2 separate regions of the Homo sapiens genome follow, and region 2 is linked to region 1. Evidence: fine-mapped expression QTL. A gene starts in region 1. The other region holds a variant in brackets. All regions are shown on one strand. Distances are from middle to middle.

Evidence for each region. PIP is the estimated chance that this variant, and not a neighbour inherited with it, causes the effect.
Region 2: its variant is the best candidate, but not a certain one, in a credible set for the expression of ACOXL in stomach (GTEx, PIP 0.60).

The regions. Positions count from the first base shown.
Region 1 is chr2:110,730,000-110,735,523 of GRCh38, reverse strand. ACOXL (acyl-CoA oxidase like) reads right to left here and starts at 2,951. Exons shown (of 18, transcript NM_001142807.4): 1 at 2,750-2,951. It overlaps LOC124906064 (a long non-coding RNA gene), which reads left to right and starts at 3,099. Exons shown (of 3, transcript XR_007087181.1): 1 at 3,099-3,170; 2 at 3,620-3,688; 3 at 3,889-4,163.
Region 2 is chr2:111,124,154-111,129,153 of GRCh38, reverse strand. All of the region lies in intron 2 of BCL2L11 (BCL2 like 11), which reads right to left. Among named protein-coding and RNA genes, the nearest start is that of BCL2L11, 5.7 kb to the right of the region's middle. The variant AG/G (reference allele first, on the strand shown) is at 2,138.

The DNA of each region.
Region 1 (5,524 bases):
GGAAGTTGCACAACCTCTTTTGGAGGAAAACTGTTTCCTGAGCTCTTATGCCCTGGGATTGCCTGGCCCTGTACAAACTTCTCACTATGTACACACAGCACTCACCACTACGCTGCCACAACCCTCTCCCCTACACCTACTTTAACTGCAAAGACCTGTTTGGGGTAAGGTGGGGACAAGCCACAGGAGATCTGGCATTGCCTCAGAGAGGAGGAAGTTTTATTTCTCATCTCCTAATGTTCTATAACATTTTACATTAGGAGAATGTTAAAACATCCAGAAATCAAGATCGCCATCTTCTAACATGGGCTAAGGTAAAATCTGATAGTACAATATGAACTTTCAAATAGATAGATATCAGAATCTTTAACCATTTGGGGAAAAAATATGAAATGTTGTTCATGCCATTACTACAACTCTGAACTATAAAGTAAATAAACAAGAACTGGAAAGAATGGAAAAGTGTTTGTCAGGGTAATGGGATTTTTGCTTTTCCCTTTGCGTGCAAGTGTGTTTTGGTATCCCACCACAACCAGTGTTTACTCCATGCCCACGCAACAGTTTTTCATTCAAGCTTCATAACACAGCAGCATTGATATTATCTGCATTCTGTAGATGAACAAATGTAAGTCAATAAGGGGGAAAAAAAAATCCAGGACAATGGTCACACAGGAAATAAACTGCCACACTGGACCCCTTATCCAGGCATGCCTTTCCTCTGTCCCTATGGAATTCACAAGGAAGTCCCTTCTGCTTGCCTCAAATCAGTAGTTTGGTTATTACAATTTTGTTCCGTCTTTTAAACTGCAGTTATCTAAACTGAAAGACAAAGAGGTGATAGCCCAGGAACAAACTGAAAAGACTGAGGAATATAGGAGGGGATGTGTGTCTAATCAGATGCGACTGAACTCAGTATGACTTAAAGCAGCCGTTCACAAACATTGATTTTAGGAACTCTTTGCACTGTTAAGAATTATGAGGTCCCAGCACTTTGGGAGACCGAGGCAGGCGGATCGCTTGAGGTCAGAAGTTCAAGACCAGCCTGGCCAACACGGTGAAACCCCATCTCTACTAAAAATACAAAAAATTAGCCAGGCGTGGTGGTGGGTGCCTGTAATCTCAGCTACTCCGGAGGCTGAGACAGGAGAATCGCTTGAACCCAGGAGGTGGAGGTTGCAGTGAGCTGAGATCACACCACAGCACTCCAGCCTGGACAACAGAGTCAGACTCCGTCTCAAAAAAAAAAAATTATGAGGTCCCCAAAGAGCTTTTATTTGGGTGGGTTATATCCACTGATATTTCCCGTATTAGAAATTAAAACAGAAAAGTTTTCAAATGTTTATTAATTCATTTGAAAATAACTAATAAATCTATTAGTGTATTTTATGAAAATAACTATTTTCCAAAACAAAAAAAGTTAGCAAGAAGAGTAGCATCGTTCTATATTTTTACAAATCCCTTTACTGTCTGTCTTAATAGAAAGCAGCTGTATTCTCATGTCTGCTTCTATATTTTTTCTGCTGGAATACTACACATCATGTGGTCTCTGGAAACTGCCACTGTACATTAGTGAGAGAATGAGAGTGAAAAAGCTAATAACTTTTTTTGTATTACTATAAAAACAGTTTGTACTCATGAACCGCCTGAAATGCTCTTGGGTCCCCCCAGGGCTCCCTGTACCACACTTTGAGAACCATAACTTAAAGAACTATGTATGAGAGAGAGGGAAAGAGAAGTCGGCGAGACACTGATGGATATACCCACCATCCCACACTTCTCACTTTTCAACTTTCAAACGCCCCCAACTCCCCACTAGGTAACCTCAGTGCAGGAACCCCAGATTCTCCAAGGACAGCCTGACGTTCACTCAAGCCATCTCCTTCCCTCTCATTTCCGCAAAATAAATTAAACGAGGGCTAAGTGGGCATGGCTAACCAATTAATCCTCCACGGGCACATACTGACATTTTTAATAGGGCCTTTCTTAAGCTAGAACTCCAAAGCATGCCTCCAACTGGGCTTTTCAGACTGCTTGAAATGGGTATGAGAAAGAGAGCCCACAGGAGACACGAATGCCGAGTTCTGGTCCTGACTGTCCGGTGACTGAACCATCTCTCTATCTCCAGTGCAGCTCAAGCACTCAACCCTCTGCCTGCTTCTCAGGGCTGTCCTGGCATCGGATGACATCGAGGACCTGAGTTCTTCTTATAACCAAACCGCCCCGCTGAAGCTGCCCATTCCGCACACCTGCACTCCGAGGGGGTCCTGTAAGCCTGTCCCACCCCGACGCCCAGACACGCCCTGGACAGGGCCACTCCATCCCTGTGCGCCCATCCCATCGCGGTTTTCTGTCCCCTTCTCCCCACCAAGGGTGGGACATCGCGGGGCGGGGACTCAAGAAACAGGTTCAACAAACCAGCAAGGCCGATCTTCCAGCCACACGGTCTTCGTAGACACCGCGCCTGTCACCGCGGGGCCCAGCCCTGCACCCGACTCTTCGTGGGGGAGGGAGCTCGGGAGGAGAGGGCACCTCTCAGGGGGCCGAAGAGGTCGGCGGCGGCCGGCTGCGCCCACACACCTGGGGAGGGGAGCCCGTCACCTGCGGCGAGGCAGGGACCCGCCTCTCAGGCGCGGCGCACACCCCACCTCGCCCTCGCCAGGGCGTTGTCCGCAGCGACGCTCCGGGGACCGAGGGGACACGCTCGGCGGCTTCGGGGGCGCGGGCAGGGGCGACGGCCGCAGCGCGGTACCTTTGCCGGAAGAGCGGGCGCCGCCGAGGAGTCCGCGCAGCTCGTTCTTGAGGCTCCAGAAGTCGCCGTCCAGGTAGCGGTGCAGGGAGGAGTCCCCGAGCCCCAGACCCGGCGCCGGCTGCATCGCGCTCACCTGCCTCTGCTTCTCCGCGTGGCTGGCAGGGCCGGCTTCGCTCCGCGCCTCCTCCAGCTCCCAGCAGGTGAGGCCCCAGGCGCACGCCCTCTCCCTCTCCACCCCTCCCGGCCCGTCTCCTCCCTCCTCACCTTCCTCTCCCCTCCCTCCCCGGCCCCGCCCTGCCCTGGCTTCCCGGGCGGGAGGTCCGGCGCGAGCGGGCGCTTCTACGGTGGCCTCCCCTTGCCCTTCCGAGGAAGCGAAAACTCTACCCTCCAGTTATCAACTGTCCCTCAAGATTTGTGAGCCGTAAGAAACAAGTACTAGACCCCTAGAAAGGGTGCCAGTCACGTGGACCTGGGCACCAGAGGCCCGGCTGCTCAGGACTGACCGGCTGACCCACTCAGCAGATCTCCCGGCCAGCCACTTTGCCTGACCCCCACGACCCAAGATAGCCTGGCTCCAGCTCTGGCCCCTCCTCAGCTGTATCTCACCTCTTCCCCGCACTGGGCATTACTGTGAACTCTAATATCACGGTAATCTAAAGGCGTCCCAGGTCTACAGCACTGCAGTCCAGGGTAGCTGGAAGCTGCATTCATGACGAGGTGATCGACCGGAACACGATACTCATTTCCCAGGACACTCCTTTTTTTGTTGTGGCTGGAGGAAAATGAGTTATAACCTAAGTGGAAAATGTTCCTTCCTTTCTGCTCCCTAATTCTCATATACCTTGTTGATTCTCCTTTTAAATACTCAAGGAAATGTTAGCCGTTCCCTTCCAGAGGCTACTTTGCTGGGGAGATGATGGTGTGGTCTGCTGTCGTGAGGTTAGTGGATGCCATCTGTATTCGTTTCCAGTAACAAATTCCCACAAAGTGAGTGGCTTAAGATAGCACCAATTTATTCTCTTACATTTCTGGAAGTCAGAAGTCCAAAATAGGACTTACAGGGTTAAAATCAAGGTGTTGGCAGAGCTGGGTTCCTTCTCACAGCTCCAGGGAAAAATGCATTTCCTTGTCTTTACTAGCTCCTAGAGGCTGCCTGCATTTCTTAGCTCCTGGCCCCTTCGTCTGTCTTCAAAATGCATCACTTCAAGCTCTGCTTTCATCGTTCCATCTTCTACTGACTTTGACCTTCTTGCCTCCCTTGGACTTGTTTACATGGGACCCATGGGAATAATCCATGGTCAATGGGAATAATCTTCCCACCACAAGATCCATACTTTAATCACACCAGCAATGTCCATTTTGCCATATCAGAAACACACTCTCCGGTACTAGGGATTAAAACATGAGCACCTTTGGCGAGTCATTCCTCTGTCTACCACACCTGTGCAGCTGCGAGTAATAATACCCAGTCATCCATGATAAAAGGGGCTTTGTTTTCTCACATCACAGGAAGCTTGGTGGTAGGAAAGCCCCAGGGGTGAATTTGATGGCTCTACCCTGGGGACCCAGGTCCTTTGCATCTTTCTGCTCCACCATCCGCCATCCTTTCTCTATATGTAATCGTTACCTTTTTTTTTTTAACTTGTCTTCTACCAGTTGTAAGATGGATGCTGCAGCTCCAAGCACCACCCTGTGCAAAGCAGAAGAGGAGTATTTCCTTCTATATCAGCCAAAATAGTGTAGTGGTAACAAACAACCCCGAAACGACTTCACATACACTTCCTCAAATCTTAGGGCCTAAAAAGACAAGAGTTTATTTCTCACTCATGCTACCTGGGGGTTCTGTTCCATGTCCCCTCGGTCCAGGTCCTGGCTGACAGAACAGCCATGATTGTGTGGCCACACTGGCTTTTAAAGCTTCCAGCTGGAAGAGACACACATAACTTCTACTCACAATCCACTGGACAAAGCAGCTCACTCCTGTCTCGATGGGGGAAGGGAGGTACCACCCTGGACATGCCCAGGAGGTCAACACCCAAAATCATCTGTAAGCAGAGCTAGTGACTATTCAATCTGCCCTTCTGGTCACACTCTCCCTTCCACAGGCAAAATATACTCTCCATCCTTCCAGGGAAGCAGCCAAAGCCCCACACCTCCACAACATCAAGTCTGAGGCCCCTGGGGGATACAGAGTGGTCCTTGCATCAAGTCAGGATGTGGCTCCTCTTGATCCGGAGACCTATAAACTGAAAAGATAGGTTACTAAGTTAACTTCCAAGTGAGTGTTTGCTTGAGTGAGAAAAAAGAAAGGCCTCTGTTCTTAGAAGCCACTAAGATTTTTGTTGTTGTTGTTGTTGTTTCTTGACGTGGAGTTTTGCTCTTGTTGCCCAGGCTGGAGTGCAATGGCATGATCTTGGCTCACTGCAACCTCTGCCTCCTGGGTTCAAGCGATTCTCCTGTCTCAGCCTCCTGAGTAGCTGGGATTACAGGTGCCCGCCACCAAGCCTGGCAATTTTTTGTATTTTTAGTGGAGACACGGTTTCACCATGTTGGCCAGGCTGGTCTCAAACTCCTGACCTCAGGTGATTGTGATCCACCCACCTCGACCTCCCGAAGTGCTGGGTTTACAGGCATGAGCCACCGCACCCGGCCAACCACTAAGATTTTTTTTGAGGGTCATTTGTTACGTAGCCAATCATAGAAGATACTAAAAGAATGTTGCTGATTAAATAAAAAACTAAAATAGGTACATTGGCTTAGAGGCTGGGAGGGGCA
Region 2 (5,000 bases), 390 kb before region 1:
GTAAAACAAAACTGTATTTGCCTGAAGAATGCCGCTGTTTACAATGCTCATTTAATGTTTAAAATGCTTACAAGATTCTGCTAATCACTTCCATTCTCCTAAGTCAACCAAACAACCCAAGGAGTAAGCTTCATGGAAGTGATGTGCCCTGAGTGGGAAGAGTCAAGCCTGGCTTGCTAGAGCAGCACTGCACACTCCAGCTCCTCTGTGAGGCCAGCCTGTTTAGATGAAACAGAACACCAGCCACAAATCTAATTGTGCATTTTTCTAGTAGCCATGTTTAAAAAGGTAGAAAGAAACAGAGAAAGTCAATATTAAAATACATTTTATTTAATCACCAATGACCATATGACAAAATGCTCAAGGAAGAGGGAGAGAGGTGGCTGTGGCTATAAAAAGGTATCATGAGAAATCCTTGTGGTTGAGTTGTTCTGTATCTTGACTATGGTGGTGGCCATACAAATCTAAGCCAGTAAATATAAATCCAAAGCACAGTGAAAGATCACCTATATCCTCTAGGATGACTACTGTTAAAAAAAAAAAAAAAAAAGTGTTGGTAAGTATGTGGAGAAACTGGAACCCTTGTGCCCTGTTGGTGGGAATGTAAAATGGCACAGCCTCTATGGAGAACAGCATGATGGTTCCCCAAAAAATTAAAAATAGAATTACCATATGATCCAGCAATTCCACTTCCAAGTATATATCCAAAAAAATTCAAAGCAGAATCCCCCAAAAGATATTTGCATACCCATGTTCATAGCAGCACTACTCACAATAGCCAAAAAGTGGAAGCAACCCAAGTATCTCCTGATGGATGAATGGATAAATGAAGTATGTGATATACACACACTGGAACAACCTTCAGCCTTAAAAAGGAAGGAAATTCTGACATGTTGCAAGATAAATGAACCCTGACGACATTACGCTAAGTGAAATAAGCCTGTCATGGAAGAGCAAATACTATATAAATTTCACTTATATAAGGTATCTGAAGTTGTCAAATTAATAGACAGAAAATAGAATGGTGGTTGTCAGAAGCTGGGGGGAGGGGGAAATGGGGAGTTGTTTAATGAGTACAGAATTTCTGTTTTGCAAGGTGAAGAAGTTCTGGAGATTGGCCGCACAACAAAATAAGTGCACTTAACACTACTGAACAGTACACTTAGAAATAAATGGTTCAGATGGTAAATTTTACGCTTTGTGTTTAACTGCAATACAAGTTTATATTTTATTTAACCTATATATTTAAAACACCATTTCAACATGTAACCCATATGAAAACAATTAAACTATTTTGCATTCTTTTTTGTCTCCTCAAAATCCAGTGTGTATCAATAATGACAGCACAACTCAGTTCAGACTAGTCCTATGTCAAGTGCTTAATGCATGTGTGGCTTCCCTGCTGAGTAGTGCTGAGCTAGACCTCAGCTGTCACCACTACGTGGCAAACCTTACAGCTAGATCCAGGTAATTAAAAACACTTTGGCAGAGCAGAGGTCAGGATCTTTTTCTTGCTACCTGCCTTCTTCAACTTTATTTGTCTGAAAGGCTAACAGGCAGAGCTGGACTGACTCTCAACATCTCCTGGGCTTCTCCTCTTTGTCAGGCACTCGCTAGCATCTGCAGGCCATTATTCCCCGCCCAGGGAGCTCACAAACTAAAGGAGGGGTCAGACAAGTACCAGCTATAAGAGAAGTACCCACAAGACGCTGAGGAAAAAAAAAAAAAAAAAAAGAAAGCCATTAACTCCCATCTGTGAATTCCAATGTGCCAGGGAACAAGTATAAAATTTAAGACATTTACTAACATGACACTAGGGAGCATTCCTCCATATCCTGACTTTTCTCAACTCTTATTTCCAATTGTACTGACTACACTTTAGTGTACTGACTACACTTTAATTTCCATTAAAAACACATATGGCATAAAACACTCATCCAAAAAGGCACTCAGTAAACCAACACATGTGAGTGATTTTGATAAAAATAATCAGTTATTCACTAAGGTATCATTTGTCAAGTTAATCCTCCCAGAGTGTAAGGAGACTAAAATTGAGGAAAAGTGAAAAAACTGTATCTGTTGCCCCACAGAGAAATATATTCCTTGAACTTGTCTTCAGAAAAATCAGAGACATAAA[AG/G]GAAAATATGAAAACAGTGTTAATACAAACACTCAACTACTATACATTCCTCCTAAGACTTGACTTTCTCATTAGAACAAAGTTTTGCAAAACAAAACTTCAAGACACACTGATCTCTACCCCAAGTTGCTGAGCAAAAAACTGCTTTGCAGCTAAAGGAGCCCCTGGCTAAGGCGAACCTCTTTATAACCTCACATTTGTGTTCCACTAGTTCAAACCAATCATAATGACTTCTTTGTGGAAAATGTATTTTGCAATAAATTATCAAAAGCTTCATTGAAGAACTTCATGGATAGGGTTGAGTAAAGAATACTAAACAAAGTCAAGAGAACCACTTATCAACTCAGCATTATTTCAGTGGTCTTCAGGCATGAACTAAGACTGTAGAATGTCCAGAGAAAATTATGGACTACATAAATTGTAAATTTTATGCTTCAATTTAAGAAACTCACATCTGGCTAAGTCCTTTCCTCCCCCAACCCCAACTCATCCTCTCCCAAAACAAATCTCCCAAAAACTTAACACTGAAAACTTACCTCGGTACATTAACTTTAAACAAACTCCTCGTAACTTCTCATTTAATCCTATGCATTAAACTCTTCATCACACCATCTACTGAAATGCAGCTAATACTATAAAATTACACCTCAGGATCCACTACTTTACTTCACAGGTATAACCATTAGCTGTGCATAATTATTTAGATTATGATCTTTGAAGCCCTGTATATTTCATCTCAAGTAACAGTGCTTAACTTATAATTAGCTTGTAAAATAGTATTTATCAACAAAAAAAGCATTTGTGCCTGTCTTTACATTAAAAAATACACTATCTCACCCACTATTCCCAGTTCCAGGGAAGGAGAAACTATTTCCATGCATTAACCCATCACCTACAGAGACCAATGTATGCATTTTGCTTGAAAGGGAACTGGTTAGAGAAAATAGCTTAATAACCACAAGTGTGAAGCTTTTGTTGTGAAAGTGTGAAAAGCTAATACCTTCCAGAGGGTCTTTAATGCACGTGTGTTTCACGATACACACCATAAAGCCCTGTTAACTCATTTAGTAAGCAAGGATGTTATAGTAAGCGAGAATGATCATATATATGGGGGAGCATTTTCATGAGTACAACAAAAACTACAAGCCAAGAACTTCTAAGGCTGAAATGAGTTCACGAGCAGTAGTAACAGCAATAATAAAACTTCCAGCCCCTTTCCCTAAGGAGGGACCCTAAAAAATTACCTCCTGGCATTTGGCAAGAGACGTGCAGCCAGCATGTGTAGCTGCTGGGATGTCTGTCATTTCTCCCCACCACCTCACAGGTGTGCCCAACCTCTGACAAGTGACCACCACTCTGAGGTTCTTTCCAATTCTATAACATGGGCAAAGGCCTGCCTGATTTACCTCACTGAAGCCTATGAAGACAGAGCTGGATGGTATTTAGAAATGTCATTTTGTTCCAGTGTCTGTTCTGATGGGTTTGTTGAGTTAGCCTTCATCATGAGGTACAATCTAAATTATAATAGACTCTGTACTGGGTTTCCTAATTGATAACTCTACCAACTTACTTCTATCTTGTTCATGTATGGCAAGCTAATCTGGACAAATGGTCAATGTGATTGACTACTGATCAAGACATGAACCTTTTCCATTGGTGGGGAACAGCAAGTCGATCAACACAGACTCAGCCCCTCACCAAGGTTACCCAAAGTATGTACCCAAAGTCACATGCTGTAGGTTCAAGGGCCAAATCAAGTCTGCAGATGTTTCTTTTCAGCTTGTACAATGTTTTCAAAATCTGAATCAGCTGTCAATGTTGAAACAGGGTATCTGGCATCAATTTTGCATTCCTAGGTTATCTTGCAATATAGGAAAACCCACCCTGAGACCACATGCCCTCACAGCCACAATTAGGTGTGGCCCAAACATAGAAGGGGCAAATACTCTCCAATTTACCAGTCTCCACCAGGTCAGTTCCTTCCATGATTTTGCTGTGGGCCTCTGTGGTATTTATGTTAGCCACTCTTGGTTCAAACCCTACTACTGCCTTTAATCCCTGAAATAAAAACCTACAACCTAATCTGATTAGTACTATGTCCAAACCCTCTGAGCAATAAGCACAAAGAGGAATTTAGGCAGAAAACAAACCATTTTCATGGTTCTATGTTGGTACTGCTTTCATGAACTAGTTCATTTTTTTAAAAGTGTTATTTTCAAAAATGATTGTCATCTTTCTTTACACTTTTGATTATTAAGCTATTTTCTGTAAATGATCAGTTCCCTTTCAAGCAAAATGTCATTACTATGTAAAGCCTGGTGGTTAAAACACACTTTAGCTTAATGAAGACAGACCTGAAAGCTAATGTTTGGACCTCAACTCATCACTGCCACAAAAGTTAGTAACTTTGTAAAAATGTTGATGTGGGCCATGCGCGGTGGCTCACGCCTGTAATCCCAGCACTTTGGGAGGCTGAGACAGGCAGATTACAAGGTCAGGAGATTGAGACCATCCTGGCTAACACGGTGAAACCCCATCTCTACCAAAAATAGAAAAAATTAGCTGGGCGTGGTGGCACGCGCCTGTAGTCCCAGCTACTCTGGAGGCTGAGGTAGGAGAATTGCTTGAACCCGGGAGGTGGAGCTTGCGGTGAGCTGAGATTGCACCACTGCACTCCAGCCTGGGCGACAGAGCAAGACTCATCTCAAAAAAAAAAAAAAAAGTTGGTTTGATAGTTTGACACATCCTCCATTCCCATCTAAAGATGGAATAAATCAGTTACGGGGTTTTAAAAGGGGATTTTAAATGCCACACACAGCCTTCAAGCAGATTCAACCATCCACACGTCAACTGCCTCTTACC